7 linked regions of the Homo sapiens genome follow. The protein of the gene in region 1 purifies or fractionates together with the protein of each later gene. This does not show direct contact. Each region holds a gene or a part of one and is shown on either strand. Other genes may lie near its edges. The genes, in order: DPF2, BCL7A, ARID1B, BCL7B, H1-3, SS18L1 and HMGXB4.

Region 1 (4,263 bases):
TGGGAGGACTGCTTGAGCTCAGGAGTTTGAGACCAGCTCAGCAATATGGCAAGACCCTGTCTCTACCAAAAATATAAAAAAGTAGCCAGACATGGTGGTGTGCATCTGTGGTCCCAGCTACCCGGGAGGCTGAGGTGGGAGGATTGTACTGCTTGAGCCTGAAGGGAAAGGTTTTAGTGAGCTAAGATCGCGTCACTGCACTCCAGCCTGGATGACAGAGAGACTCTGTCTCAAAATAAATAAATAAATACATAAAGAATAAATAAATAGCTGGGTGCAGTGGCTCACGCCTATAATCCCAGCACTTTGGGAGGCTGAGGCAGGCGGATCACCGGAGGTCAGGAGTTCGATACCAGCCTGGCAAACATGGAGAAACCCCATCTCTACTAAAAATACAAAATTAGCCGGGTGTGGTGGCACGTGTCTGTAATCCCAGCTACTTGGGAGGCTGAGGCAGGAGAATCACTTGAACCCAGGAGGCAGAGGTTGCAGTGAGCTGAGATTGTGCCACTGTACTCCAGCCTGGGCGACAGAGCAAGACTCCATCTCAAAAAAAAAAAGTAAATAAATAAATACATAAATAACCATGTCACTTCCCGAGTAAAACCCTTCAACAGTGTCCTGTTGTACCTAGAATAAAACCCGAGGCCCCAGAGATCTGGCAGTGCTTGCCTCTCTCATCTCATTGCCCACCATACTCTCCCATGCCCTGTCATCTGGCTTGTCCAACATAAGGCCTTGGCGCTGGCTGCTCCTTTCCTGGGATTCCTCTACCTCCAAATCTTGACTGGCTCCTTGGTATCACCAAAATTTCAACACCAGCATCACCCTCCCAGAAGAGCCATACCTGACCATCAAAATAAATCACTTATGCAATTATTCTCTGCCACAGTACTGATTTCGTTTTTTTCATGGCACATTATACAAATCTCATTTACATCCTTGCTTATTGTTGTTCCTGTAAGAATGTAAATCTCATGAGGCAGGGACCTTGTTTGTCTTTAGCATCTTTAGTGACTAGAACAGTGTCTGACATAAAATCAGCACTCAATATATATCTGGCAACAAATCAGAGTTCTGACTGAGATGCTAGGGAGGGGCGTGTGGCATGTGGGAGGGATCCTGCTCCCTTTTTAAAAGAAAGCTCACTTTAGAGGGAACTGTGCAAACAGCAGTAAAAGCCCAGAAGGAGCCATGCTGAGGAGGGGGCGGGGATACACACGTCATTCTCGGAGGTGCCGCAGATATTGCAACATTTGCACTCGATGCACTGCCAGCGGTATGTCTTCACTGCCGCCATCATCACGGGGGTAAATTGGAGGCAAGATGGATGCCCTGTAGTGGGGGAAGTGAGTGAGACAGACAGTCGGAAATGCGGGGGGAAGAGAGGAGCTCCTGCCTGTGGCTACATCTTCTCTTGGTTAGGAAAAGCGAGGTGGGCTGGTTATGACAGCCCTAGAGGCCAGCAAGCCAAGAGCCCCTTGGGGACTGGGCAAAGCAGCAGCCTTCACGGGAAGCAGTACCTGAGCGGCCACAGTCAGAACAGGACACCAGCTCCTCGGGTTGTCCCGTCTTCTTGTTAATCTTTGAGTCCCCCAGGCAGAAGTCACAGTAGTTGTTGGGCAAGGCCAATCCATCAGGACCCTTTTTGGCTACAGAGAGAAAGAGTTTTGATGACACCCATGGGGGTCCCTGAGCCACTCAACACCCATGCAAGGAGTGGTTTTCATAACCAGGCCAACTTCTGCTTGCCCACCACTTCTGACACCTCAGCTTACATTTCTGCTCCTCAGACCTCTGGGAAACAGGAGTGGGTGGTTGAGAGTCTTCCTTGTCCTCGCCCTCCTCCTCAGCCAAGTGGGAGTGGGCATAGTGGTAACTGAGGCCTGGTCGGTTCTTGTAACGTTTTCCACAAACTGAGTGGGAAGAAGATTGCAGAGAAAGGTGTTAGGATACAAGAGTGCCATGTCCCCATCCCTGCAAGCTGTGGGGGCTCCACCTGAGGCAGAGGGCAACCATCCCTTCCCCTAGCAGCTCCACTCTGGGACAGGCCTTGAGTGACGGCCACTTCCCCTCAGCCAGGAGCATCAGGCCGTGGGGCTCTCTAGCTTCTGGGGCTCTTTTCCCTCCTGAACTCCAACCCCATGGCCACCACTGCTCTTCCATGTTGACTTTTGGGGGGCTTAGCCCTTGCCCCATCACCAGTTAGTTGCTCTGGGATATACTAACAGTCTGGGACGCTCCAGGTCAGGAAAGGGAAGGATATTCCTATATCTTTGGGGTGGCAGGAAGGGGGAAAAGTGGATAAGACTCCAAACTTTTTTACCCCTCAGTAAATGTGGGAGGCTCATGCTACCCCACACACCATGGAGCCCATCTCCCCTGAATGTGGGTAAACAAGCAGGGGATGGGTTTCTTGGGGATAGCCTATCAATGAAGCCAGTTGGGCAGTTGGTCCCCAAAGAAATTCAAGCACACTCCCATGTAATTGCCCTGTCCAGGCCTGCCAATCAGCAAGGAAAGCAGATCCCCATGAGGCATTTTGTCATCTTGAGAAGTAATACCAAGAAGGGCAAGGGGGCCAGCAGGAAAGGAGTGGGGAGAGAGGATGGCAGGAGGAGGTGGTGGGGCAGTGGGGAACATGAGCTGACCACCAGCTGCCTGGTCTGGGGAGGGAGCGGAAGGGTCTGATTGTAATGGGCTCCTGATAATGCTTCTGAAGCCACCCCATGCACTGGGCCGAGCAGCTCTAGGAGCAGGTTTGTGGGAAACAAGCAGTGGTAAAGGCAGCCTTCAGGACTTTGAGGAGTAGAGCACAGCAGAAATTCCACTGCTCCTACCCCCATGCCATTCCAGAGATTTTAAAGCTAGCATCCCAGGAAATGAGAAAGGCAGGAGGAACAAGGGAAGAGGGAAAAAGGGAAAGGAAAACCACAAGTCTGAAAAGTTGAGAGAGCTACCTCTCTGGGGCGCTTTCGAGGTATGCTTTTGTTTGAAACTATCTGAAAGACAGAAAGAAAAGTCATGAGAAGAAGGCCTTGATACACTTGAGACAGGAGCAGCAGCAGCAGGAAAGCAGAGCAAACGAGAGAGAAACCCCAGCGGCGATGGTGCTCCCAGGGTGGAGGGACAGAAGTGGGGCAAGGCAGACAGAAAGAAAAAGAGAACAGACGTTGAAAAACTCAGTGTCAGACCCCTGGGGCCCTGGCTTAACTGAGGCCAGGAGACCTGCAGGCCATCTGTTGAGAGGCCAACCCTGCCTGCTGTGGCCCCCACAAGCAACCCTACCCCAGAGGATGGCAGAAATCTTTCCCAGAGCATGCAGGTCCCACCCGTCATATAGCAGGGACCCAGGCCTCCCAGGGGTCTCAGACGGAAGCAGTCAGCAGGCAGGACAAGAGCCCAGGTTTGTTTTAATACTCTGGGCAAAAACACAACCCTCCCTCCTCTCATATCCAGAGCAGGAGCTGGGTCCAAGGCAAGGTCTACCCACCCACTTGTGAGGCACTCACTGTCACAGGCATAGGGCTTATCCCGGTCCTCCAGGATGGAAGCATCCAGCTTCTTACGGGCACTGCCCACACCCTTACCCTGCCAAGAAGAGCAAAGAGACACCCTTATTTTGGTAGCTGGGCCTGAGGAGTTAGACTCTTTTGGAAGTGGCCGCTAATCTCACTTGAAATAAAATAAGGAATTCCCTAGGCCACCCTGTCCCAAGATGCAGGCAGCACGCTGGCCCCTCACCTTGGATTTCCCCTTTCCCCGACGCTTGGGAGTATCTTCTTCATAGTCTTCATCATCGAGGTCATCCAGGAAGTCATCTGGTTCTAGGATCCGCTGAGTGGACAGGAGGGTTAGCATGGGTAGAAATATGTGCATCCAAAAGCTCCCCTATGATGAGACTGGCCAAGGCCACCCAGAACCTCCTCTGTGACGTGGTCCCACCCACACCAGCCTCATTCCTCACCAACGCCTTTCAAGCATGCTATAATCCTGCTCCTGCTCCCTTCCATACTTTGGGATATCTTTCCCCTGTGCTTCACGTTATTTCCTTAGCCTGAAATGCTTTCCCCACCATGCCACATGGCCAAATCAAATAGCATGCTTCCAAAAGGTTGCCCTGATGCCACAAGCAGCCATGCCCTCTCCTGCCTCTGATTGGCCACCCTGGGAGCACATTATTGGTGGTTCTGTCCTGACACTCGCCTCCTAGTTTAAATTAAAATGTTGTTGCTTATTTGTGTGACCTTGTGGGAAGCTTTT
Region 2 (4,263 bases), on another chromosome or scaffold:
ACAGACAGGAAGTGGCAGAAGAGAATTAGATTTGGGCTCGGACCCCAGACACCACCTCCTGCTATTCTGTTGGCCATGAAAACCAAGAATCATTCTAAAGGAGCGCCAGGGTAACAGAAGCTGGAGGAAGAATGACAAATTGCCAGGACTCCATGCAGATTGGCCAAAGCCATTCATTACTCATGAGCCCTGGACCAGCTTCCCAGTAAATCAACCCATTCAAGGTTTGATTGTGTTTGGGAAAAAAAAAAAAAAGTAATTGACTTGTAACACACAGGACACCTTTCAGGGCAGAAAGTGTGCCAGAGATCTGGGCTTTGCGGCCGCAAATCAGCCAAGATGCAAGTTTGCAGCTGCTTCCCAGCGAGGCTCGAGGCCACCGCAGGCTACAAGCTGAATGCAGCCAGGCTTTCGTGCCTCTCTTTGCCCCAACTGGCAACCTCTTCACCGAGTTCTCAAGTTACCCCAGTGATGAGAAACTGTATTTCTAGGTGTGGACATTGAGGGGACTCTGGGACAGAGGCAAGAACATTAAGAATTCTACCTCTGAGCTGGACCTATGCTCAGCTAAGCAGCCACCCGGAGGGGCCATGGAGCTCAAGTTTAAGGCACCAAGTGAGCACCCAGGAGGACATGGGATTTCACAGCCACAGACACACTGGGTGGGCACACGGGTTCAGCGGAGCAGCTGAGGTTTCCCACAATTGCCCCCCAAAACCATCACCACAGAACACATACCCCTCCCCAAAAAAGGGCGTTGCTCCTCTTCCCCAATGAGGGTATTAAGCTATACTCATCACTTTCTTATTTTTTTATTTTTTTTATTTTTTTGAGACGGACTCCTGCTCTGTGGCCCAGGCTGGAGTGCAGTGGCACAATCTCGGCTCACTGCAACCTCCGCCTCCCGGGTTCAAGCGATTCTCCTGCCTCAGCCTCCTGAGTAGCTGGGACTACAAGCACATGCCACCACGCCCGGCTAATTTTTGTATTTTTAGTAGAGACGGGTTTCACCATGTTGGCCAGGCTGACATCAAACTCTTGACCTCAGGTGACCCACCCGCCTTGGCCTCCCAAAGTGCTGGAATTACAGGTATAAGCCACTGTGCCCAGCCTATTTGTTATTTTTTTGAGATAAGGTCTCCCTCTGTTGCCCAGGCTGGAGTGCGGTGGTGCGATCACTGCTCACTGCAGCCTCGACCTCCTGGGCTCAAGTGATCTTCCTGCCTTGGCCTCCCAAAATGCTGGGATTACAGGTGTGAGCCACCACACATGGGCCCCACTTTATATTTAGGATGGCAAACAACCAGTCAACAGGCGTGTTTTGTTTGGCCTGCACAGTACTTTAAAAATGTTAAATCTGCTGCCAAACTTCAAACAAACAAACAAACAAACAACAAAACAGGCTTTGCATAAGAATCCAGACTTCTGGCTACTCTTGAAAACATGACCTGGGCCCACATGCCCCAGGGAGCGACAGCTTGCCCCAGATGGGCTCTCTGGCCCCCCTCAGATGCCCTCACTCTTGACACCTGTAAGCACCAGGTGCAGAAATCCCCACAACCACCAGGCTGCAGCCCAACTTGCTGCAAAGCTGGCCCTGGGTGTGCCCCGCGCCTCCTGTCTTGGCGGCCCCGTCACCTTACCCTGACTTCAACACCTTTCCCTTCCCATTACACTTGAGCTTCTGGGAGGAAAGGAAAAAATGAGGTCCCAGCAGTAGGAATATAGCCCCAACTGCTCCTCCCCAGCACGGACTCCTATATAAACTACAAGAATCCATCCCAGATTCTCCAGGCTAAGGCCAATTTCGAATGTTCTCCTGTGTCCAGGTCCAAGGGTTAGCCAACAAGACCATCTTAGGGTTACCCACCACTCAAGGGGACCCTGCTGACTCCCTCCAGGAAAGCTCTACTCCCTGTCCTTGTACTCACTCCTCATGGCTAGTCCCTGTCACCTCAAGAGGCCTGGCCCATGGCTGGCCTCACCCTAGCTAGGCCCAGGTCTGCCTGACCTGCCATGTGCCCAGTAGGAATGTCTCCATGATGAAACCTCTGGAGGAGCTGAGGTGAGGGAGGCCTCAGGCCCAAACCTCTACCTCTCCTGGGACAGACGGGAGCTCTTCAGGCACAGACCTTTCTCAGTCCTCACAGCAAGTCATTGAGGGAACCCTCAGACCAGGTGCTAAGGGGTCCTGGGCCTAAGCCTACTTTTTTTGTTTGTTTTTTGAGACAAGGTCTCACCCTGTCACCCAGGCTAGAGTACAGTGGCACAATCGTAGCTCACTGCAGCCTCAACCTCCTGGGCTCAAGTGATCCTCCAGGCTTAGCCTCCTGAGTAGCTGGGATTACAGACGAGGGTCACCATGCCTGTCTAATTTTTTTCTTTTTTTTTTTTTTTTTTTGAGACGGAGTCTCGCTCTGTCGCCCAGGCTGGAGTACAGTGGTGCAATCTTGGCTCACTGCAAGCTCTGCCTCGTGGGTTCATGCCATTCTCCTGCCTCATCCTCCCAAGTAGGTGGGACTATAGGCGCCTGCCACCACTCCCGGCTAATTTTTTGTATTTTTAGTAGAGATGGGGTTTCACTGTTAGCCAGGATGGTCTCGATCTCCTGACCTCGTGATCCTCCCTCCTCGGCCTCCTAAAGTGCTGGGATTACAGGTGTGAGCCAACGTGCCCGGCCTTTTCTCTTTTCTTTCTTCTTTTTTTTTTTTTTTTTTTTTTGAGATGGAGTCTTGCTCTGTTGCTCAGGCTGGAGTGCAGTGGCGCGATCTCGGCTTACTGCAACCTGCGCCTCCCAGGTTCAAGCAATTTTCCTGCCTCAGCCTTAAGAGTAGCTGGGATTACAGGCGTGTACCACCACATCCAGCTAATTTTTTGTATTTTTAGTAGAGACAGGGTTTCACCATGTTGGCCAGGCTGGTTTCCAACTCCTGACTTCAGGTGACCTGCCTGCCTCGGCCTCCCAAAGTGCTGGGATTACAGGCATGAGCCACTGCGTCCAGACTAATTTTTCTTTTTTCTTCTTCTTCTTTTTTTTTTTTGAGATGGAGTCTCGCTCTGTTGCCCAGGCTGGAGTGCGGTGGCGCAATCTCCGCTCACTGCAAGCTCCACCTCCTGGGTTCCCGCCATTCTCCTGCCTCAGCCTCCCAAGTAGCTGGGACTACAGGCGCCCGCCACCACGCCTGGCTAATTTTTTTGTATTTTTTTAGTAGAGACGGGGTTTCACCATGTTTGCCAGGATGGTCTTGATCTCCTGACCTCGTGATCCGCCTGCCCGGCCTCCCAGAGTGCTGAAATTACAGGCGTGAGCCACCGCGCCCGGCTCTTTTTTTTCTTTTTCTTTTTTTTTGGTTTGAGACCCAGGCTGGTCTCAAACTCCTGGGCTCAAGCAATCCTCCTGTCTCAGCCTCCCAAAGCTCTGGGATTACAGGCGTGAGCCACCGCAGCGGGCCTCCAAGCTTACGCTGCAGCCCAAGCTTTCGTCTCCTACCATCGCCCTGGGGTCTTCTCTCCTCCACCAGCACAGGGCCCCCAAACCCTGGCCCAGTTTCCCAAAAAGAGGCCCACCATTTTGTTTTCCCTTTAGCCATCTTCTGGTCACCTCACCTCCACTGGCCTGCCTTGCTGAAACACCAGAAAAAGAGAACAGGAGGCAGCCTGCCCCAAATGAGAGGGAGGCCACAGCTTTTTCCGGGGGTGGGGGAAGCATCAGGGGACAGTGGGTGGGTCGGGGGGGTAATTTTAGGGGTCACTAGGGCTGAGGAGAAACCCACCCAAGGCTCATGGGGCCAAATGATCTGCCAAACACTTCGGCTTCCCTCTGGGTAAAATACAGGGTGCCCTGTTAAATTTGCATTTCAGATAAATTAGATAATGTTTTAGTATAAGTGTGTCCCAAATATTGCATGAGACATACTCAAAAACATTTATTTTTAAAAAAATCTTTCATTGTTTATCTGAAATTCAAATTTAACTGGGTGTGCTGTATTTTTATCTGGTTAAACCTGGCAACCCCACCCCCCCACCAGTGGTGAAATGCATGGTTGGTGACCACACAATTAATAAACAACCCACAGTCTCATGGGCTGAGTCTAAGACCCAATCCGAAGGCGCGGGGAAGGTGAGATATGGCTTCTCAGGGGCCAGAGAAACCTGGGCAATAAGTCCAAGGCTTTCGCTTAGAAGGGGCCAAAAAAAAAAAAAAACAAAAAACCTCAAAGCCAAGTTTCTACAAAGTCCACCTTACAACACAGACAACACTGA
Region 3 (3,500 bases), on another chromosome or scaffold:
TGAGGCGACAGGACCGAGTTGGGTCCCACAGTTGGAAAGGGATCTTGTGCCTCTGCAGACGGGCACACCATCCAGTGCAGCAAGCCATCCAAAATTGGCAAGCAGATGCTTTCCGTGTAAGCAGACAAGTCTAGCTGCCCGGAAATGTTGGCCAACGTGACCAACGTGTTATCCCTCAAGACCTCGAGGCAGTCCCACCACCACTCATCTTTGCTGCAGGCCACCCCCTTGTCCTCATCCTCCTCTTTCTCATAGGTCTGCGGTGCTCGCTTTCTCTCTGGATGCTCGTGGTGAAGAAGAATCAGCTTCCCCAGGATCAGCACCAGGCCTGGATGTTTGGACATTTCGGCATCATTGCCAGGCACGAATGACAAGCTACGGACAATATTGGACACACAGATGCATCGCTTAGCCAGCGAGTCCTGCCAGTGCGCGATGGTACACAGAGGAGTCTCGTCTCGGCTCCTGGGCTCGTCCTCCAGCAGCTTGATGTTCCGGTGACTTTTGGCTTGCTGGATACCAAAGGGAAACTTACTGCTTTCGGTCTGGGGCCCAGGGTTTGCGTCTTCAGGCAATGCCCCTGGCCGAGCAGAGAGGACGTCATCGATGGTTGCTATGATGCTTTTCTCTTGCTGCTCTTCAGAGTCGCCTTTGCCTTCTTGCTCTTTCTTTCTACCTGCGGAGCTTAAGGGGGGAGGTGGGCGCCTGCGAGGAGGAATTTCCATCTTGCTCTCAAAGTGAGTCTGAATGTGCTCGGTGGTGTCACCCCCGCCGAGCTGCCAGTGCAGAAGGCCACTATTGAACTCCTGCACACGCCCCAACTTGTCAGATCGGTCAACAACAAACAGGTTGTTCTTTTTGACTATCTTTATTGGCAGCTTGTCGAACTTACTGGCTTGCTTGGGCTTCTCCTTTGGGTCTGCAGCGGCGTCCGGGGCAGTCAGAGCGATGCTGCTCTTTTCATCGCTTTCTGTCTTCTCGCTGTCTTCCTCCTCATCCTCCTCGTCTTCCTCGTCGTCATCAATACATTCAGCATCTTCCTCCTCTTTCCCAGAATCGTCTGCCAAGGACTGGCTGTCATCCTTCCTTGCTGCGTTGTGATCAAGTGCTTTTTGGCTGGGGTCTCCCACTTCATATTCCATAAGAATTCCAAAAATGTCAATCAGGCATTTTCTAAAGTACTCGACTAAAAGTTCGAGAAATCCAGACAACTGGAGAGGAGGAGGAGGAGAAGAAAGAAAGAACAGGTACAATGTCATGACATCAGATATGACCGAGGAGGGTAAAGATCCTGAGACCCGTCAATACCTTTCCATCATTGTCACACGTTTGTCTCCCTTTTTGGCTGGACCATGAAAGATAAACTACCCTTCAGGTCCAGCGAACTTCCTGAATTTTACAGTATAAACTAAACCGATGTTTAGCATGTTCCTTATTTGCTGCTTCCTTGCTTAGACTATCTACACGAAAACTTACTTTTTATTCTCATATCTCTAATCTTATCACTGAGGGAGTGCCTTGCTGTTCTTTACCTTTCTGTTCCTGATTTAGAGACAATGTACTCATTATTAGAAGAGTGGGAACATGGATTTTATAGACTCTTTTGCCCAAAGTGACTCTGTTCTCTTCTATTATTTATCTGAGACTTGCTTGCCGGGATTTTTATGGTTGTTATTCTTAGGATTTTATGGTTATTTTTGTCTCAGGTACCATAGGTCACCCTAATTTATGTTCTCTATATATCTTTTGGAGAAGATAATTTCAGCAATGTGGTAGCTCATGAACACTGAAAATTAAAAACAAATCAATTTAGCCTATGATAAATAAATTAAAATGTTTCATAAAATGCAATTTTACATTTCAGTTATTTATGACTCTAGCTGAAAGGCAAAAACCACTATGAGAGAACCACTGACTACAAGAACAAGTTTGGTTTCCTTTAAGCAACTGTACCAAGAAAAAACCAATACACTTCACGATTAGCAACTGCCCTCTCTCCCAACACCCCCCACCATGTTTAGGAACTCTAAAGAGTAAGTAACAAGGATTCTAACAAGGATTCTTTCCCGGTAGATGTTCTGGAAATCAGCTATACCTTCATATCCTACTGTCAGTTTCTTGAAAGTAGAGTTGGAACAATTTTTAAGAAGTCAGGGGAAGCCCCCAGCACCAACTAGAAAGAACTGCTTTTAGTGTGCTGAAGGCACAATGTTCCAAGGGCATTTTCCCTTTTTTTTCCAGGGGAAAAGGGAAAGTTAATAAAGCAATTCTGGTTATGCAAATATGTGATCAACAACAGTTCACCTAACATAAGGATGAAAGCGCATTACTCTAGCAAATGCAGTATACAGTTTTTAAATACTTATTTTCTGTTAACACAGAACTCGTACAATGTTTATGACCTTATTAATAAACTTTCTAGCAATTGAAAAATTGCCTTTCTAGGCTGATAATGAGGGCTTAAATGAGAGAAGAAAGAAGTAGAAGATTCTGGTCTTATTTCCTTAGAAGCAAGGAAATTAAGTGTTTTAGTTTTTGCACTCAAAGTAGAGAGTTGTTTGTATACTATAGGGAAAATGACCTTTTTCCATTTTTTATTTCTAAATATTTCTTTAAAAGTCTATAGCCCAGTGGACTCGGGCATTTTCCCCAAACTTCAGTGCTCCTCTCTTCTAGCTATTATGCTGGAAGCTACCTGAAGCCTACCTCTGAACAAAGGAGGGGTTTAAGCTCATTAAAAGTAGTAGGCTTTTACATGACTGCTTCAAAATAACCTGGAGAGAGGCAGAAATGAGAGAGCATAGACTAAGAAGTAAGTTTAGCCATGAGTTCATAACTATTTTAGCTGACTGACAGGTACATGGGGGTTCATTAAACTGCTCTCTCTCCTTCTATATATATTTATACATTCTATAAATGTATAGAATATAAAATTTCTAAATCTTGAATATCTTTTTAATGAAAAGAAGATGTCAAGTCCTCCTGGAAAGCAGGGTTATGTCCCATTGCAACCAACTGTGTTTCCAATGCTGACTCCAGTCACAACTTAATGTTACATTTTGATTTCTTCCCATTGGCCAGCTAATATTCATTCTGAACAATTTAATGTTACTACTGTCATCTATCCCATATACACATACACACACAGTCACTGTTCTCTCATAAGAAATAGAGGTATGTGTGTGTACACACACTAAAGACTACAGTGAATATTATCCCAGATAACTCTACATTGATTAAGGCTGGTTGATAACAACTGCAGTGATTAACAGTGTTGGACGGTCAGTGCTCATCAACTCAGGCATTAGTTCAAGCACAAATGTGCATGGCCTGATGCTCTCCTATCCTAATTTGGTTGTTAGTTGGACTATGCTGGCTTACCTGGGAGAGATTGAAAGTAGCAACAGTGCTGTCATCATACAGAAGAATATTAATAGTGTCCAAAGCCCACGTACTCTCAGCCAAAAGACCTGATTTAAGGGACATCATCACACGCCACG
Region 4 (4,263 bases), on another chromosome or scaffold:
TGGTGTCTGAAGGTGGTGAGCTCAGGCTTCGGCTGCCGGACTGACGGATTAGCACCTGGGAGTTCTGCCTGAAGGCTTAAAGTCACCATCAAGGTGCAAAACTTAAGAGTTACCAGGCCGAGGCCAGGCACGGTGGCTCACGCCTGTAATCCCAGCACTTTGGGAGGCCGAGGTGGGCAGATCACAAGGTCAGGACATCGAGACCATCCTGGCTAACACGGTGAAACCCCGTCTCTACTAAAATTACAAAAAATTAGCCGGCTGTGGTGGTGGGCACCTGTAGTTCCAGCTACTCAGGAGGCTGAGGCAGAAGAATGGCATGAACCTAGAAGGCAGAGCTTGCAGTGAGCCGAGATCGCGCCATTGCACTCCAGCCTGAGCAACAGAGCGAGACTCTGTCTCAAAAAAAAAAAAAAAAAAAAAAAAAAGAGTTACCAGGCCGAGTGCAGTGGCTCACGCCTGTAATCCCAGCACTTTGGGAGGCCAAGGTGGGCGGATCACTTGAGGTCAGAAGTTTGAGACCAGCCTGGCCAACATGGTGAAACCCCGTCTCTACTGAAAATACAAAAATTAGCCGGGCATGATAGCACGCGCCTGTAATCCCAGTTACTTGGGAGGCTGAGGCAGGAAAATCGCTTGAACCCGGGAGGTGGAGGTTGCAGTGAGCTGAGATCGTGCCATTGCACTGTAGCCTGGGTGACATGGCGAGACTCCGTCTCAAAAAATAAAAATTAAAATTAAAAAAAAAGAAAAAAAGTAAGAGTCACCAATGCATTCCTCCGCTGCACCTACAGTAGCCAGTCACCAAAGTGTTTCCCCCTCCTGCTCTGGTATCATTTGTGCTCATTCCTTCCTCTCCTACTGCTTCAGTTCAAGCCTCATCATCTCCAGCCTGGCCTCCTGCAACAGCCACATACCTCACTGCCCTGCCTCCAGTCTCACGTACCTTAAACTGAACTGCAAACCACTGCCAGAGAGACCTTTCTAAACCCTTCGACGCTCCACTGCTGCCTAAGGGAGAAATGTCATACCCAGTACTTTTTTTTTTTTTTTTTTTGAGACCGAGTTTCGCTCTTGTTGCCCAGGCTGGAGTGCAATGGTGCTATCTCAGCTCACCACAACCTCTGCCTCCTGGGTTCAACTGATTCTCCTGCCTCAGCCTCTTGAGTAGCTGGGATTACAGGCTTGCGCCACCACGCCTGGGTAATTTTGTATTTTTATTAGAGACGGGGTTTCACCATGTTGGTCAGGCTGGTCTCGAACTCCTGACCTCAGGTAATCCACCTGCCTCAGCCTCCCAAAGTGCTGGGATTACAGGCATGAGCCACCACGCCCAGCCATACCCAGTACTTCTTAGGAGAGGCAGGAGCTGGCCTTATCGCAACATAGGAAGTCCTTTCTGATCTCTGGCCTCAGTGCCTACTGTTCTCCTACAAGCATCCTCAGCTCCAGGCAGACTGGACCCTAACCCAAGAGCTTCGTCATGCATGGGTGCTTCTGCCCAGCTGTTCCTTGGCTAGGCTGCCTTCTCTTGTCCTGGAAAGCCTCAGACCTCCCAACACAGCCCCGACATCACTTCTTCCGCGGAGCCCTACCTCCCTGGCTCGCATAGGTGGAAATGCCCACCCTCTCTTACTCTCCTGTGATAGCCTGTGCACGCCTGCATTTATCATTTCGCACACGTGCTTCCTCCCATGAGCCTCTGTGGACAGGCTCTGTGGCTCACTTGTCCTTGACTCCCCAGTGCAACGCACGGTACCTGCATACAGTGGGAGTTCATTAAGTGTTTACTAAATGAAAAGGAGGAGATGGTGGCCAGACTGAGGAAATGGAGCCTCATATGTCTCCCAGAGCCTTCTGACTACTGAACACACGTTGGTGTTCCCTTTCCAACAGCACATGGTTGACCTTGGTGGGGCCTGGGAAAGAGGTGGGGAAGGAATAACTACACGCTGGGTTAGCTCCAATCTGGTTTTGAAGAGAAAGTCATAAACTCATGCTAGTCTTGACTCCTATAAAGACCTTTAATACCCACACTAAAATGGAAGTAGCATTTTGTCACCAAATGAATAAAACTGTCACTTTTGAGCTTAGACAAAACACTGTTCCTCCCTGAGCATCAGTTTCCTTAAATAGGGATGATAATAACTGCCTGGTTTATATCACAGGCTGATACATGGGTAAAAATGAGAAAGTAAAGTAAAAGTGCTTCGTAGACAGTACCTAGCAGGTAGGTGTAAAAGGCAGTATCATGACTACGGTGATGATCCGGCGGGATTGGTTTAGGAGGCAGAACATGTCCTAACAGTGGGTAAGCAGAAGCTTCGGCTTTGGGTAGCCTACTCTAAGCGACTATGATAAAACATACAGTCTAGGCCAGGTGCAGTGGCTCATGCTTGTACCTTGGGAGGTCAAGGCTGGGGGACTGCTTGAGGCCAGGAGTTCACAACCAGCCTGGACAACATAGCCAGACTCTGTCTCTACAAAAAATAAAAAATAAAAAATGAAGTACAATCTAAAAAAAAGCTTCTGATTCGGACAACCAGGACCTGACATGGAGTCTGTCACTTACAAGTTATGTAACTTTAGACACGTAACTTAACCTCTCTGAGCCTCAGTTTCCTTAACTGGAAAATGAGAATACCATTACCTATCTTGCAGAGTTATCGTGAAGTTTAAATGAAAAGATTTAGGTCAAGTGCCTCGCAAAATACCAGCGAAACAGCAGGCACTGAATTGATACACAGAATTCTTTTTTTTTTTTTTTGAGACGGAGTCTCACTCTGCAGCCCAGGCTGGAGTGCAGTGGCGCAATCTCGGCTCACCGCAACCTCCACCTCCTGGGTTTAAGCGATTCTCCTGTCTCAGACCCCCGAGTAGCTGGGATTACAGGCACGCGCCACCACGCTCAGCTAACTTTTTGTATTTTTAGTAGAGACTGGGTTTCACCATATTGGCCAGGCTCGTCTTGAACTCCTGACCTCAGGTGATCTGCCCGCCTCAGACTCCCAAAGTGCTGAGGTTACAGGTGTGAGTCACTGCACCTGGCCAATTCTTCTTATTAATGCATTCATCCAAGTTTTCATTCTCCTGCAAGGAAGACACAGAGATGCAACTCACCCTGGAATTCAAGAAGGAGAGAGGAATTGGCTGAGGCATCAGAAGGAAAGCCATTAGGTTCTCGGGCTGCTGAACTGTTCGATTTTGACTTTTCTTTCTAGAAAAGGAAAAAAAGAGGAATATGACAGAGCCAAGCAGGAGACTCACAGAGAGGGAGGAGGGTGCTATGTGACAGACCACAGAGGTCTGGATTAGGACTGAACAGGAAAAACGACAGCAGCGTGAGAATCCAAGGACCCAAGGAAGAACAGAATCCTGGACAAGCAACTTCTCCTCAAGCCTCAGAAAAATGAACCCTTCCAGCAGGAATACTGTGAATCATAAGCAACAGGCAGATACATACACTTCGACTAGAACATCCCATAGTATCCCTCTCCTGCCCTGATCAAATTGCGCCAGGCAACCCTTCTCTATACGAATGGGCAAGAAATACAAAACACTCATTTGAGAAAGATTCCTGTTTCAGTAGCAGAGTGGGGAAAAAGTGAGAGAAGAAGGAACCTCATGTAACACAGACAGTGACAGGACAAATGGGCCCAGGCTGGCTCTATTCCTGATCCGTCATCCTCATCCATTCAAAACGACCACCCCAGCCGGGCGCACTGGTTCACGCCTGTAATCCCAGCACTTTGGGAGGCCAAGACGCATGGATCACCTGAGGTCAGGAGTTCAAGATCAGCCTGGCCAACATTGTGAAACCCTATCTCTACTAAAAATACAAAAATCAGCCGAGTGTGGTGGCATGTGCCTGTAATCCCAGCTACTTGGGAGGCTGAGGCAGGAGAATTGCTTGAGGTGGAGGTTGCAGTGAACCAAGATGGCACTACTGCACTCCAGCCTGGGCTACAGTGCGAGACTCCATCTAAAAAAACATAAAATAAAACAAAAAATAAAATAAATAAATAAATAAATAAATAAAAATACAAAAATGAGCCTGGCATGGTGGCATGTGCCTGTAATCCCAGCTACTCTGGAGGCTGAGACAGGAGAATCGCTTGAACCTGGGGGGTGGAAGTTGCAGTGAGCCAAGATTCTGCCACTTCATAACAGCCTGGGCGAAAGAGCGAAACTCCATCTCAAAAAGAAACAAACAAAAAAACCCAAAAAACAAAATGATCACCCCATGTTTATTTTTACCTATAA
Region 5 (3,328 bases), on another chromosome or scaffold:
TTGAGACGGAGTCTCGTTCTATCGCCCAGGCCGGAGTGCAAGTGGCGCGATCTCGGCTTACAACTTCCGCCTCCCGGGTTCAAGTGATTTTCTACCTCAGCCCCCAAGTAGCTGGAATTACAGGCGCGCGGCACCACGCCTGACTAATTTTTGTATTTTTTTTTAGCAGAGATGGGGCTTCACCATGTTCTTCAGGCTGGCCTCGAACTCCTGACCTCGTGATGCCCCCGCCTCGGCCTCCCAAAATGCTGGGATTACAGGAGAGCCACCTCGTCACGCAGTGCAGCCCCCACACTATTTACAAATACAGTACCTGAGGGCCGATATCCCAAAGCTAAGGCTTATCAAAGGCCTGCGAAAAGACAGACACCGGGCACCACCAGCAGTTGGCCATTCTCAACGACCAGCTGCACAAGATCGTGGGCCGGAAGCACCTTGGGCATGCCACGTACTGCTCACAACCAGGACGGGATGTGCTCAGGAAGTCACCTCAACGCTAAAGTAAACTAAAGCATTTACACCACATCCCTGTGTCAGAAATAAAATTTTTTCAGGGCCACTTTTAAGCGCCGCGCTTTAACAGAAATCGGCCGGCCAATCACACACCACCGCGGGAATTTGAAGAAAAAGTAGGACCTGGTGGCTCAAGTAGCCTTAGCTATCCGGTGACTGTGGCTGAGACTGAGACGGAAGGATCCTTGCGCCCAGGCTGCTGGGAGCTGTTAATAACTGACCCCCAACCAGCACGACTAGGATAGACCGTGGCCGCACAACACCGCAGCACCCGCACCCCTCTCCACCCCACTCCCCCCTCCAAAAAGCTTCAGCTCTTTTGACTGAGACCTGTGGGTGGCTCTGAAAAGAGCCGTTTAAAATTTTCAAAGGGGAACGTCCCGCCAGTTTCACTTTTTCTTCGGAGCTGCCTTCTTTGCCTTTGTAACCTTCGGCTTCCCCGACTTAGGCTTGGCCGCCTTGGGCTTAGGGGCTTTGGCCTTAGCTGGACTCTTGGCAGCTTTTTTTGGCTGAGGTGTTTTCACCTTTTTCGCACTCTTGGCCACTTTCTTGGTCCCAGCAGCGGTTGCTGGCTTCTTTACCTTCTTAGGAGTCTTTTTGATGCTTTTCTTCGGGGTAGCGGCGCCAGCCACCTTCTTGGGCTTCTTGGCTGCCCCAGCAGGCTTCCTAGGCTTGGCTGCGCCAGCCTTTTTGGCCTTGGGTTTGCCTTCCCCGGAAGCCGCTTTCTTGTTGAGTTTGAAGGAGCCAGAAGCACCGGTACCTTTGGTCTGCACCAGAGTACCTTTGCTCACCAAGCTCTTGAGGCCAAGCTTGATACGGCTGTTGTTTTTTTCTACATCGTAGCCAGCAGCCGCAAGCGCTTTCTTAAGCGCGGCCAGAGAAACGCCGCTGCGCTCCTTAGAAGCTGCCACTGCCTTGGTGATAAGCTCAGATACTGGGGGTCCGGATGCTTTGCGTTTCCCAGCAGTTGCGCCTGCCTTCTTCGCCTTTTTCTTCACAGGTGTTTTTTCTGCGGGTGCAGGAATGGTAGGAGCAAGTGGAGCAGTCTCCGACATGTTTTTGTCTTCCCAGAAAAGACAATAAGTAATCTCAAACTGTCAGAACAGCATGTCCTCTACGAGGGAGGCTGAGGGTTTATATAGAGAGACGCTGAGTGATGATTGGTTCCTTGCTCCATGCGCGGCGCTGCTGGAAAAGGACTCCTCGTATCTACCGCGCTGCTGTGTTTGTTGCCCCTTAAAAAAGAGTAAAAATATAAGAAATCTGGGCATGAAATAATTAGAGACTTGGGGGAAACTGATCCGAGAGAGTTCGGGCTTCATTCCTGCCTTTGTTTCTATGCATAGTTTTAAAACCGGCATCTTGAAACTTTTCTTATTCCCCCAACTCTCTTTCAAACTTCGGTCAAATCGAGACAACTTTCATGTTTTCCTTAAAAATACTATTTCTCCCTCTTTCATTTGCAAATCTCTCTTCCAGGGCATTGTTCTGTGAATTCTTACCGTCTCAACTTTATATAGATAAACTCATTTTTATCCAAATGTGCAGGGAAATTGGGTTTTTTCGCAGGAACAATAGCACAGGCTCTCTGGCGAGCTGTTTGCATCAACCTCTAGGAATTGGCACTGAGGTAGAAAGTTCTATGTACAAGAGGGGTGATTAGTTTAGAAAAGATAGTTTAAAAAAAAAAATAGTATTTGAGTTACCAGTGTGTAAGCTGGATTTGATCTCCATATTTCAGTGGTTTAAACATTTCCAGAAAGATAAGGGTGAGGCTACATTATTCCTCTTACAGAAAAAAAAGTCCTAAGTAGAGTTACCAACCTTCTCTTAAAAGTTAGGATCATGGATTTTTCCGATCTAGAATGGGCATTAAAGATCAACTACCACATCCCCAAAAAAGAAAACTGAACCAACAAATAATAGAATGGCAGGCCAACATCATTTTGGCAACTGTGAGCATTGAGAGCTTGTGTACATGTTTGTGTCCCATCACTTTATAAATAATTTAATGAAATACACTATTTTTTTGCTAATATTCATCATAGAATTTTGTACATTTTTTATATTTTAAAATCATATTTATAATACAAATTTCCCTTCCTCTTTCTCTGTACAACCTGTTTGAATAACTGGTAAAAGTCACTTTAAAAAAATAAAATACAAATTTTCAACATTGCAAGTGTGGGCATCAAGGGTTAGAAAGAAAAATATCTGATTTAAATCACTGTAAATTTTCATCATTCTACTTGGCTTTTTACACACAAAATATGAACTAAGCTGTCACACCCTAAATTAATTGGTTGAATATGTCCACCTAAGGAGCTGAACAAACATTTCAAAGCAAACATGAGTAACTTCAGTATTCTTTATCTGTTAGTTTGCAATACAGCTGATGGAATTAGGTTATTATTAAATAATTAAGCACAAAATTGATATTCTCCATCAAGTAATCAGATGCTGAAATGAACTCCTATGTTGAAGAAACAAGAGAAGTAGTTTGATGTTATGTTTCTTCTAACAAAAATACTCATTTCAAAAAATCAAGTTATTCTGGCCTACACTCAATAGTGATTAGAGGATTTTTTCATATAAATCCTAGATAAAATAATCAACTTTAAAGATGTCATCTCTCCTCATTCAACTAATTTCATAAAAATTACTTAGCTTGTCTTGGCCAGGCGCAGTGGCTCACGCCTGTAATCCCAGCACTTTGTGAGGCCATGCTGGGCAGACCACCTGAGTCAGGAGTTCAAGACCAGCCTGACCAACATGGTGAAACCCTGTCTATACTAAAAATACAAAAATTAGGCGG
Region 6 (4,263 bases), on another chromosome or scaffold:
AAAACCAGCCTGGGCAACATGGCAAGACCTTATCTCTACAAAAATTAAAAAAAAAAAAAAAAAAAAAAAAGCCAGGCCTGGTGGTGCATGCCTTTAGTCCCAGCAATTCGAGAGGCTGAAGCAGGAGGATCACTTGAGCCTGGGATTTCCAGGCTGCAGTGTGCCACGATCAGGCCACTGCACTCCAGCCTAGGTGATAGGGCAAGACCCTGTCTCTTTAAAAAAAAAAAAAAAGTAGCTACATCAGACACTAAAAGGCTGAGCAGCACATCCTGCGTTTGTTTTTGGGACAAAGTGTGGCAGCCTTGGGCAGACGCATGTGGACACCTCGCCATGGACAAGGCTGAACCCTGTGCTCCAGCTGGAAGGGACAGGGCCAGGCCCATGATGGCAGAGATCCTGCTGACTCCCAGGGCTTACGGAGGCACCACTGCAGCCAATATGCCAGAAGATAGCCTCTGGGTGCTGGCCACAGGGTGGCTTTTGTTTTGAGACAGGGTCTGGCTCGGTCACCCAGGCTGGAGTGCTGTAGTGCAATCTCAACTCACTGCAACCTCTGCCTCTGGGTTCAAGCGATTCTCCCACCTCAGCCTCCTGAGTAGCTGGGATTACAGGTACCCGCCACCACGCCCGGCATTTTTTTTTTTTTTTTCGGGAGAGAAAGGGTTTTGCCATGTTGCCCATGCTGGCCTCAAACTCCTGAGCTCGGCCGGGCGCGGTGGCTCACGCCTGTAATCCCAGCACTTTGGGAGGCTGAGGCAGGTGGATCATGAGGTCAGGGGTTCGAGACCAGACTGACCAACATGATGAAACCCCATCTCTACTGAAAATACAAAAATTAGCTGGGTGTGGTGGCGGGGCCTGTAATCCGAGCTACTCAAGAGGCTGAGGCAGGAGAATTGCTTGAACCTGGGAGGCGGAGGTGGCAGTGAGCCAAGATCATACCACTGCACTCCAGCCTCGGCGACAGAGTGAGACTCCGTCTCAAAAAAAAAAAAAAAAAAAAACAAACAAACTCCTGAGCTCAAGCAATCCTCCTCCACTGGCCTCCCAAAGTGCTGGGATTACAGGCGTAAGCCACCATGCCTGGCCATTTCTTTTTTTTATTTCTTTTTATTTTTTTTGAGACAAAGTTTCACTCTTGTTGCCCAGGCTGGAGTGCAATGGCATGATCTCAGCTCACTGCAACCTACACCTCCCGGGTTCAAGCAATTCTCCTGCCTCAGCCTCTTGAGTAGCTCAGATTACAGGCACATGCCACCACGTCCAACTAATTTTTGTATTTTTAGTAGAGACGGGGTTTCACCGTGTTGGCCAGGCTGGTCTCAAACTCCTGACCTCAGGTGATCCACCCACCTCAGCTTCCTAAAGTGCTGGGATTATAGGCGTGAGCCACAACACCTAGGCTCTTTCTTCTTTTAAACTTTCATTATGTATTCATGTACTTTTTGTTTCCCCCAGGTTTACAAAGGTGTAACTGACATTTCAACGTTGCAGGCATTCGTAGCGCACACCGTGATGTTTCTATATGTGCCTACACTTGCGTGCTTTATTTCTTCACAGCAGGCTGAGATGTGTAAGCTCAGAAGCAAAACCTTTACACATCCAATTCTTTAAGAAGTAACCCAAACAAGGAAATCTGTAGCCGTTTAGTGCCTGCCTGCTTTGTGTACCTGGTGAAGCCTCACCAACACTGTTACCTCTTGATAAATTGCAGCCCTGCAGTGGGAAGGCCTCAGCCACTGCTGCCTGCCGGTCAGCGTCAGCAGACACGAGGCCCCTCTCCCCAGGGACTGCAGGCCCGCCTTCCCTCCCGGACGAGGTTGCGCAATCCCGCAGGCGATCATCAGCTCTTCTCTGGGGGCCATCTTTATCCCGGGGTGGGACTGGAACGGGCTGTGTGTACCTCTTCCCAACTCCACATTCTGGGATGTTCTGTTGGGGTTTCAGGGCAGCCAGGGTGGGGGCACAGACACCACAGAAAGGGGCAAGTCCACCCGACACGCAGCCCCCAGCGCAGCACTGCCCAGGACCGCCATGAAGGGCGGCAAGCCCCCAGCCACAGATGTGCGTTTCCTGGCCTGCAGGTGTCTGAAGAAACGCGAGGCCACACCCAGCGCAGCCACTGCTGGCCTCCAGCTGAGGAAGCTCTGAGAGTGGCTCGCAGGCCCCACGATCCCTGGCCAGACCCAATAACAGAGTCTGTGTCCCCAACCCCAGCATGGCCGGCTGAATCCTTCCTGTCGCAGGCCCCACGCTCCCTGGCTGGACCCAATAACCAAGTCTGTGCCCCCAACCCCAGCATGGCCGGCTGAATCCTTTCCTGTCTCACGAACACACCCATAAGGCAAGCGGGGCTCCCGACACAGCCTGAATTTCCAGCTTCCAGAACACACTGTCTCTCCTCCCACGCGCTGTGCTGTGATTTAAGGGACTCACTGAAGGCAGGCACCGCGTGCTCCTAAGGGTGCAGCGTCTTAACTCTGCTGCGTGTGGCGCTTACGCTCGAGCCCAGCACGCAGCCGTGCTCCTTACCCCCCTCATAGTAGTGCTGCGTGGACTCCTCGAAGGACCGGTCGTAGCTCTGCTCCGTGTAGGATGACTGCTGGTAGGCGTAATCGCCATGGCCTGTGCGAAACGGAGACGGCGACAGTCAGCGGAGGCTGTGCACTGCACAGGTCCCGGAGGAGGCAACTGAGACCCAGGCTGGGGAGATGTTGTCTGGCCAGGGAGGCAACAAGAGCCGGCAGGACCCGTGTTCCCCAAAACCATGCCCCAACCTCCTGAGCCTCGGCCTCCCCACTGAAATGCAGACATCAATGCCTCCTTCTCGGGGCGACTGTGAAGCTACCTGGGGATTTATGCAGAGGATCAGCGCTTTCAGTGCCTGCCACACAGCCATGCTAGTGACCCGACTGCCTTCTCCCCGCCACCGCTAGCTCCTGGGAGGACGCAGGCAGGGGTGTCCAACCCTTACCGAGGCCTTCGCTGCATGTGACCATCACGTGGCCAGGGTGGCTTGCCCTGCTGCCACCTGCCCACCTGTCTGTGCACCTGCCCCTTGCTGGCTGAGGCCAGCTCCCTGCCTGGATGCCTCCCAGGGATCAATCCAGCCTTTAAGACCACTTTATTTTATTGTTATTTTTACTTTATTTAGAGACAGGATCCTGCTCTGTCACCAAGGCTGGAGTGTGGTGGTGCGATCATGGCTCAATGCAGCTTCAACCTCCTGGGCTGAAGCGATCCTCCTGCCTCAGCCTCCCAAAGTGCCGGAATGACAGGTGTGAACCGCTGTTTTCAGCCAAGACCACTTTCAGTATCCCTTCCACAAGCCCTGGGACTATGCAAAGACTGAAAGGTGACGACGGTAAAATACTCTGCAGAGATGAGAAGGTGCAGGAGGAGAGGTGCTGCAGGTGGAGCCGTCACCTTCAGGGCATTCTCTGTGAAGCTGGGAGGCGCCTTCTTGAACATTTCCACCTATCTACAGCTAGGAGCTACAATTATCCGCCTCCAACTCCCACAGCCTTTCAGGAAGTAGAGGCAAGGCCGCGTGGAGGCCAGTGCAGCGGTGTGTGCCACAGCTTCTCTCTGCAGAGGCCAGGCACCACTGCCAGCCCAGCTCACCCCATCCCCTACCTTGCTCCTGCAGGGCGTCTGGCCACTCTGCCTGTAGCCCAGGCCTGAGCTGGAATGACTGAGGACACACTGCAGTGGCCACACCCTCCTTGCCCTCCTTGCCCTCCTTGCCCCTGCAGCTGCTCTGCGTTCCTGGGCGGGGTCAGGCCGCCGCCAGTGCTCACCGTCGGGGTAGTACTGCTGGCCCATGGGCTCCGCGGCGCCCTGGCTGTGGCTGTACTGCTCGCCATAGTACTCCTCCTGGCCCAGGTACTGCTGGGAAGAGCCTGCGGGGGAACCACATTCAGCGCCAGTGCGGGCCGCGCCCTCCTCCCTCAGAGGACCTGCTCGCTCACTGGGGAAGCCAAGGCCTTGCTGAATGGCCTCACCCACCCGAGGAGAACACCCCACGCTGTCATCGTATCCAACTTATGTTTTGTATTTTTAGTACAGAGTTTCACCATGTTGGCCAGGCTGGTCTTGAGCACCTGGCCTCAGGTGATCCGCCCACCTCGGCCTCCCAAAGTGCTCGGACTACAGGCATGAGCCCGGCCTGTGACACTCTTAATGACAACTGCCGCCCCTGCCCCCAACACTGACTCCTCGGGGACAGCAGACCCTCCACGGGCCACACCCTGGCCCTCA
Region 7 (4,263 bases), on another chromosome or scaffold:
ATTATGGTAGAATAGAGTGAAAAACAGGTTTTATAATTTCATAGCAACTATGATGATCATGATTAGGGAAAAGACAGCTGAGACTGGACTACAAATATTAAAAATGTGATTTTTAATAATATAAGTACAAAATTTTATTTCTTTATACAACTGTAATGGGATTTGGATCAAACCACTAGAATTTATTTAAAAAACAAAATAAAACAATGATATAAAAACTGCAAGAAGGTCTGAATCCAAAGTTTTTCCTCTAATAGTACCAAATACCACAAGGTACAGATTATTATACAAATGTGTACAAATTTTAAATACAAATACAATAGGGCTGGGTTTCAAAGGAAAACAAACAAAAAGCAGGTCCTCATCAGGATTTCATTAATGTATATAAATGACAATGCTAGGATTAATGTCTTCCTATACTATCCATGTCTTCCCCGCCCCTCCTAGATACCCTGTGTCAAACAGGAAACTTCCACAGATACAGAAGAGGCATGGTACAATGTTCTAACACATGAAATCAAGTTAAGATTTCTGTTCCTCTTGATTTTGGTTCTCAAACAATCCTGTTTCTCTGTATTCCCAATTAAATCTTAAAACTGCTCTGAGCTGAGAAAGGGATTCAGCAGCCAGACTACCTTTAAGCAACATAGCCCTGTGACAACACTGGTGGGGAGAAGGGAAGAAATTAAATAGGATGCAGATGGGCTACACTGTCCCCAAAGATTTACTTTGATGCTGTAGTGCTCTGTCAGGGCCAGGAGAAGAAAGCACAGTTAACTCAGAGCTTGGTGTTGGCAGAGAATCTCATACCAAATTTAAAAACCATCCTGAAGTGCTCAACTGTCTTCTTTCCAACTGGGAAACAAACGTCTGGTTCTCTGGAAATAAGGGCAGCTGGGGATGGTAACATTCCTCTTTATTTTACTTTCTAGACATTATTGAAGCCCATGAAGTTCTTTATAAAGAATTAGAATCCTAACACAATGATTCATTTTTGAGGTAAAATACCTTAAAATGTAGATGATTCAGAGTTTTTGGAACAGACCAGGAGGAAGGAAGGAAAGAGGGAAGGAAACAGGGAAGGAAGGAAGGAAAGAAGGGAGGGCGGAAGGGAGAAATGACAAATCTGTATCTTCCACATGCTGTTGCTGGTGGAGGCTTCTGTTATTAAATTATATATACAGAAATTTACAGGATAAATTAAAATCTAAGAGATTTTAAAGAGTTAAATACACATAATTAAAATACACATTCACACACACATAAATAAACCTACAAGAGAGTGAGTTTTGTTTTGTTTTTGCAATTCACTTACATGTGGAATGCAGAACACTGTGTATCTGCCCACCAGGGGAACTGATAAGATGAACCCAAAAATCATGCTGGGCAAAGTTTATCCATAACCACCGAGCAACTAAGCAGCACGGCTTGTGAGGACTTGGTGGCTAACTTCATGCTGCCAGTGAAAGACACCAGCACTTAATTCTGCCGACTAAAGATTCTGGGTTAGCTCAGAATGTATGGAGGTCCAACTGGTGGCATTGACAGCTTCACCCCCCAAGGTGTTTTTTGCTGCCAGGGCTCACAGAACTCCTTGGCCTCTGTTGAGGCCACCAATGGTACCAATGATTACAATAAATTTTGAGACACAGACACCTATACAGTAGGAATTGGAATGAACCCTCTACTCAATTCACCTAAGCCACTTCCATAACTATAAAGGGAACAAATTTTATCACCTCCCACCTAGGTCACTTCAAATTGAAAGGCTTTGAATTTTCAGTCAACTGGCATCTTCCCGTTATCTTTCCTATTACATTTCAGACTAAGACAGGTAAGGCAAATGGTCAGTGATGGGTCTGGAGGTCCAACTGAGCTTGGAAAATAATCACATTTTAGCTGTCCATAAAGAGATGCGCTTGGCACCCAGAACAAGCCCCCAGCCCCCAAGTTACATTGATTTTTAAGGCAGATTTATCCACCACAGGAGAAAAAAGAATCCCAAGCCTGTATTCATGCCAAAATTTCCTCTTGGCTAAACCTTTGCCATTTCATAAAATTATTAAAAGCAAAGTAGTTACAGTCTATGTATATATTGTACATTATATATATATGTATATATGTATGTATAGATATAAAAATTTAAAACCTACAGCCAGAGGCCACTGAAGGAATCTGCAACAGTCATATATACACAAACCAGCAATGGTGTAGGATAAGGTTTCTGTCCCAGGATTCTTTGCTGTCACAGTCCCGGCATGATGTAAGCAATGTTGTCTAATGTGTTTGACTGCAAAACAAAGAAAAATGTTCAACTGAAGAGTACTGTACCTTGGTTTCCTGAGAGATGTTTCTTTGTTCAAGGAGAGAGATAAGAAAAATCAAATGGAGTTAGAAAAACAGGTGAGAATGAAGACGGCATCCTGCTGTTTGTTATGCTAGGAACTTTTCTGCTGACTTCTCCCATTAATCCTCGTAAAAAAGAGGGAAACAATTCCTGTACTGTCTTTGGGTGCAGAATAGCAAACAGGAAACACAGGAATTGTAGTACCTCAAGGGCTAGAATGCTGCTTTCTTAAGTACTGTTTTGGTAAATGGCTTGTTTTCTAGTTTCAGTGAAAGTACAGCATGCATTTGATAATATAGCATCATGTTCCATGGGCCAACAGATGAAGGAAGCACTGTGTGTCACAAAGCCTTATGTGTGTCTGACAGTGCTCATTAAGGCAGGGCATCTCTGACGCCCAATGGATCTGACTCTAAAAATCCAGGGAAAACTCACCAAGACCTGTTTGGGACAGCCATTCAATTCAGGTAGTTGTGTGGTGAGACATGCCAAGGGGCCAAGGGCACAGATAATGGAATCCAGAAGCACTGACAAACTGCCAGACACAGCCACCATACCCTGAAAAGGAGAGGAGGTTGTTGCTTGAGTCACACTCCTGATGCTGTGTTCCGGCTGACTTCCTCACACAGTACTTTAAATCCTAGGCAGTTCTACTCTTATAATTTGAAACTTTACAGCAGAAATGGAAAGTTTACTTTGATAACTCTGTAAGTTGTTTAGAAAGAAAACTTTTACAGCACATTCCCATGTTCCCTTTCCGTAATCCTAGCCCATCTTCTTACCTTCTGAGTGACCTTGGGGAGTTCACATCCTTAACTTCTGTCTCCTTAACAGGAACAGTAAAAAATGCTTTACCTACTCTGGAGAGCTGTTGGTAAGATTTGTGATTATGTATGCAAAGTATATCTGTTATAAACTCGACAAATATAGCTCAGATGTGATTACTATGAGAATCCTACAACCCTGCATGTATGTAGCTTTTGATAGCTGATTATACAATTTTTCTAGGTTGAGTTGTTCACTCTCAAAGTGAATTTGGTTCAAATTTTAACATTTTATGTAATTCATATTGTCTATTTGTGATTCAAAGAGATAAGAAAGACTGTTGCTGCTGCCGAGTTCTTGTATAATCTGCTTTAACTAGAAGCAGTGTGAGAATATGTCATATTGGGAAGCAACACAGCACAGTCCTTAAGAAAATGAGCTCCGGATTCAAGACTGCCCGGGTCCAGATCCTGGCTCCACTACTCACTGTTTTGTACCTAGGCAAGTTGCTTACTATGCTGTGCCTGTAAGATACTAACAGCATCTGCAGCAGATGGGATTGAGATAATAGATATAATATACTTGGGATGGTGCTTAATACATGGTTAAGTACTCAAAAAATATCAGTAATTATGAATATTACTACCAACATCTTGATCTTCAAAACTGCATTTCTGGCTGTCTTTTGGGTCTCTCCTTTTGGATATTTCTCCATCTCAACTTCCTGTAAGGAAGAATAACCTTCCCATGCAAATCTAGCCCTCCTTTGAGCATCCATTTCTCTGCCAAAGTCACCACCATTCACATAACTGCCCAGTCTCAAGGCCTAGCCATCACTGACTCTTCCTTTCCCTCATCCTCCTTGTCAACATCTCCCCCCTATACTTTCTGAGGGCAGCAGTACAGTAAGAGGTTAAGAACCCGGACCTTGAGGTCACATTCCAAATTCAAGTCTCTATTTTACCACTTAGGGGCTAAACTCTAGAGAAAGTGACTTCACCTCTTTAAGTCTGTTTATTCTTCTGTAAAATGGGGGGAACAAATTCTGCCTCACAAAGCTGCAGTGTGAATTAAATGATATAATTCATATTAAGCACTCTGAACCAAAGCTGGGTGAGTGAGCCTTCAATAAAACATTAGTATACAGGGAA

The links.
Region 2: the proteins of DPF2 (region 1) and BCL7A purify together in Homo sapiens (affinity purification with mass spectrometry; 5 studies listed by BioGRID and IntAct, with this or other methods). This does not show direct contact.
Region 3: the proteins of DPF2 (region 1) and ARID1B purify together in Homo sapiens (affinity purification with mass spectrometry; 9 studies listed by BioGRID and IntAct, with this or other methods). This does not show direct contact.
Region 4: the proteins of DPF2 (region 1) and BCL7B purify together in Homo sapiens (affinity purification with mass spectrometry; 4 studies listed by BioGRID and IntAct, with this or other methods). This does not show direct contact.
Region 5: the proteins of DPF2 (region 1) and H1-3 purify together in Homo sapiens (affinity purification with mass spectrometry, with the first as the bait; one large-scale study listed by BioGRID). This does not show direct contact.
Region 6: the proteins of DPF2 (region 1) and SS18L1 purify together in Homo sapiens (affinity purification with mass spectrometry; 4 studies listed by BioGRID and IntAct, with this or other methods). This does not show direct contact.
Region 7: the proteins of DPF2 (region 1) and HMGXB4 purify together in Homo sapiens (affinity purification with mass spectrometry, with the first as the bait; one large-scale study listed by BioGRID). This does not show direct contact.

The regions. Positions count from the first base shown.
Region 1 is NC_000011.10:65,343,319-65,347,581, reverse strand, and holds part of DPF2 (zinc finger protein ubi-d4), read right to left. Parts: intron 3,838-4,263; coding exon 3,745-3,837; intron 3,592-3,744; coding exon 3,513-3,591; intron 3,003-3,512; coding exon of another isoform or gene 2,961-3,002; intron 1,917-2,960; coding exon 1,779-1,916; intron 1,653-1,778; coding exon 1,524-1,652; intron 1,336-1,523; coding exon 1,223-1,335; intron 1-1,222. UniProt on the Homo sapiens protein: Plays an active role in transcriptional regulation by binding modified histones H3 and H4. Is a negative regulator of myeloid differentiation of hematopoietic progenitor cells. Might also have a role in the development and maturation of lymphoid cells.
Region 2 is NC_000012.12:122,024,405-122,028,667, reverse strand, and holds part of BCL7A (B-cell CLL/lymphoma 7 protein family member A), read right to left. Parts: intron 1-4,263.
Region 3 is NC_000006.12:157,203,878-157,207,377, reverse strand, and holds part of ARID1B (AT-rich interactive domain-containing protein 1B), read right to left. Parts: coding exon 3,382-3,500; intron 1,212-3,381; coding exon 1-1,211. UniProt on the Homo sapiens protein: Involved in transcriptional activation and repression of select genes by chromatin remodeling (alteration of DNA-nucleosome topology).
Region 4 is NC_000007.14:73,540,428-73,544,690, forward strand, and holds part of BCL7B (B-cell CLL/lymphoma 7 protein family member B), read right to left. Parts: intron 3,218-4,263; coding exon 3,121-3,217; intron 1-3,120. UniProt on the Homo sapiens protein: Positive regulator of apoptosis. Plays a role in the Wnt signaling pathway, negatively regulating the expression of Wnt signaling components CTNNB1 and HMGA1.
Region 5 is NC_000006.12:26,233,366-26,236,693, forward strand, and holds H1-3 (histone H1.3), read right to left. Parts: upstream 1,623-3,328; 5' UTR 1,569-1,622; coding exon 903-1,568; 3' UTR 847-902; downstream 1-846. UniProt on the Homo sapiens protein: Histone H1 protein binds to linker DNA between nucleosomes forming the macromolecular structure known as the chromatin fiber. Histones H1 are necessary for the condensation of nucleosome chains into higher-order structured fibers.
Region 6 is NC_000020.11:62,163,787-62,168,049, reverse strand, and holds part of SS18L1 (calcium-responsive transactivator), read right to left. Parts: intron 3,906-4,263; coding exon 3,804-3,905; intron 2,629-3,803; coding exon 2,536-2,628; intron 1-2,535. UniProt on the Homo sapiens protein: Transcriptional activator which is required for calcium-dependent dendritic growth and branching in cortical neurons. Recruits CREB-binding protein (CREBBP) to nuclear bodies.
Region 7 is NC_000022.11:35,291,634-35,295,896, reverse strand, and holds the end of HMGXB4 (HMG domain-containing protein 4), read right to left. Parts: intron 2,906-4,263; coding exon 2,783-2,905; intron 2,291-2,782; coding exon 2,246-2,290; 3' UTR 90-2,245; downstream 1-89. UniProt on the Homo sapiens protein: Negatively regulates Wnt/beta-catenin signaling during development.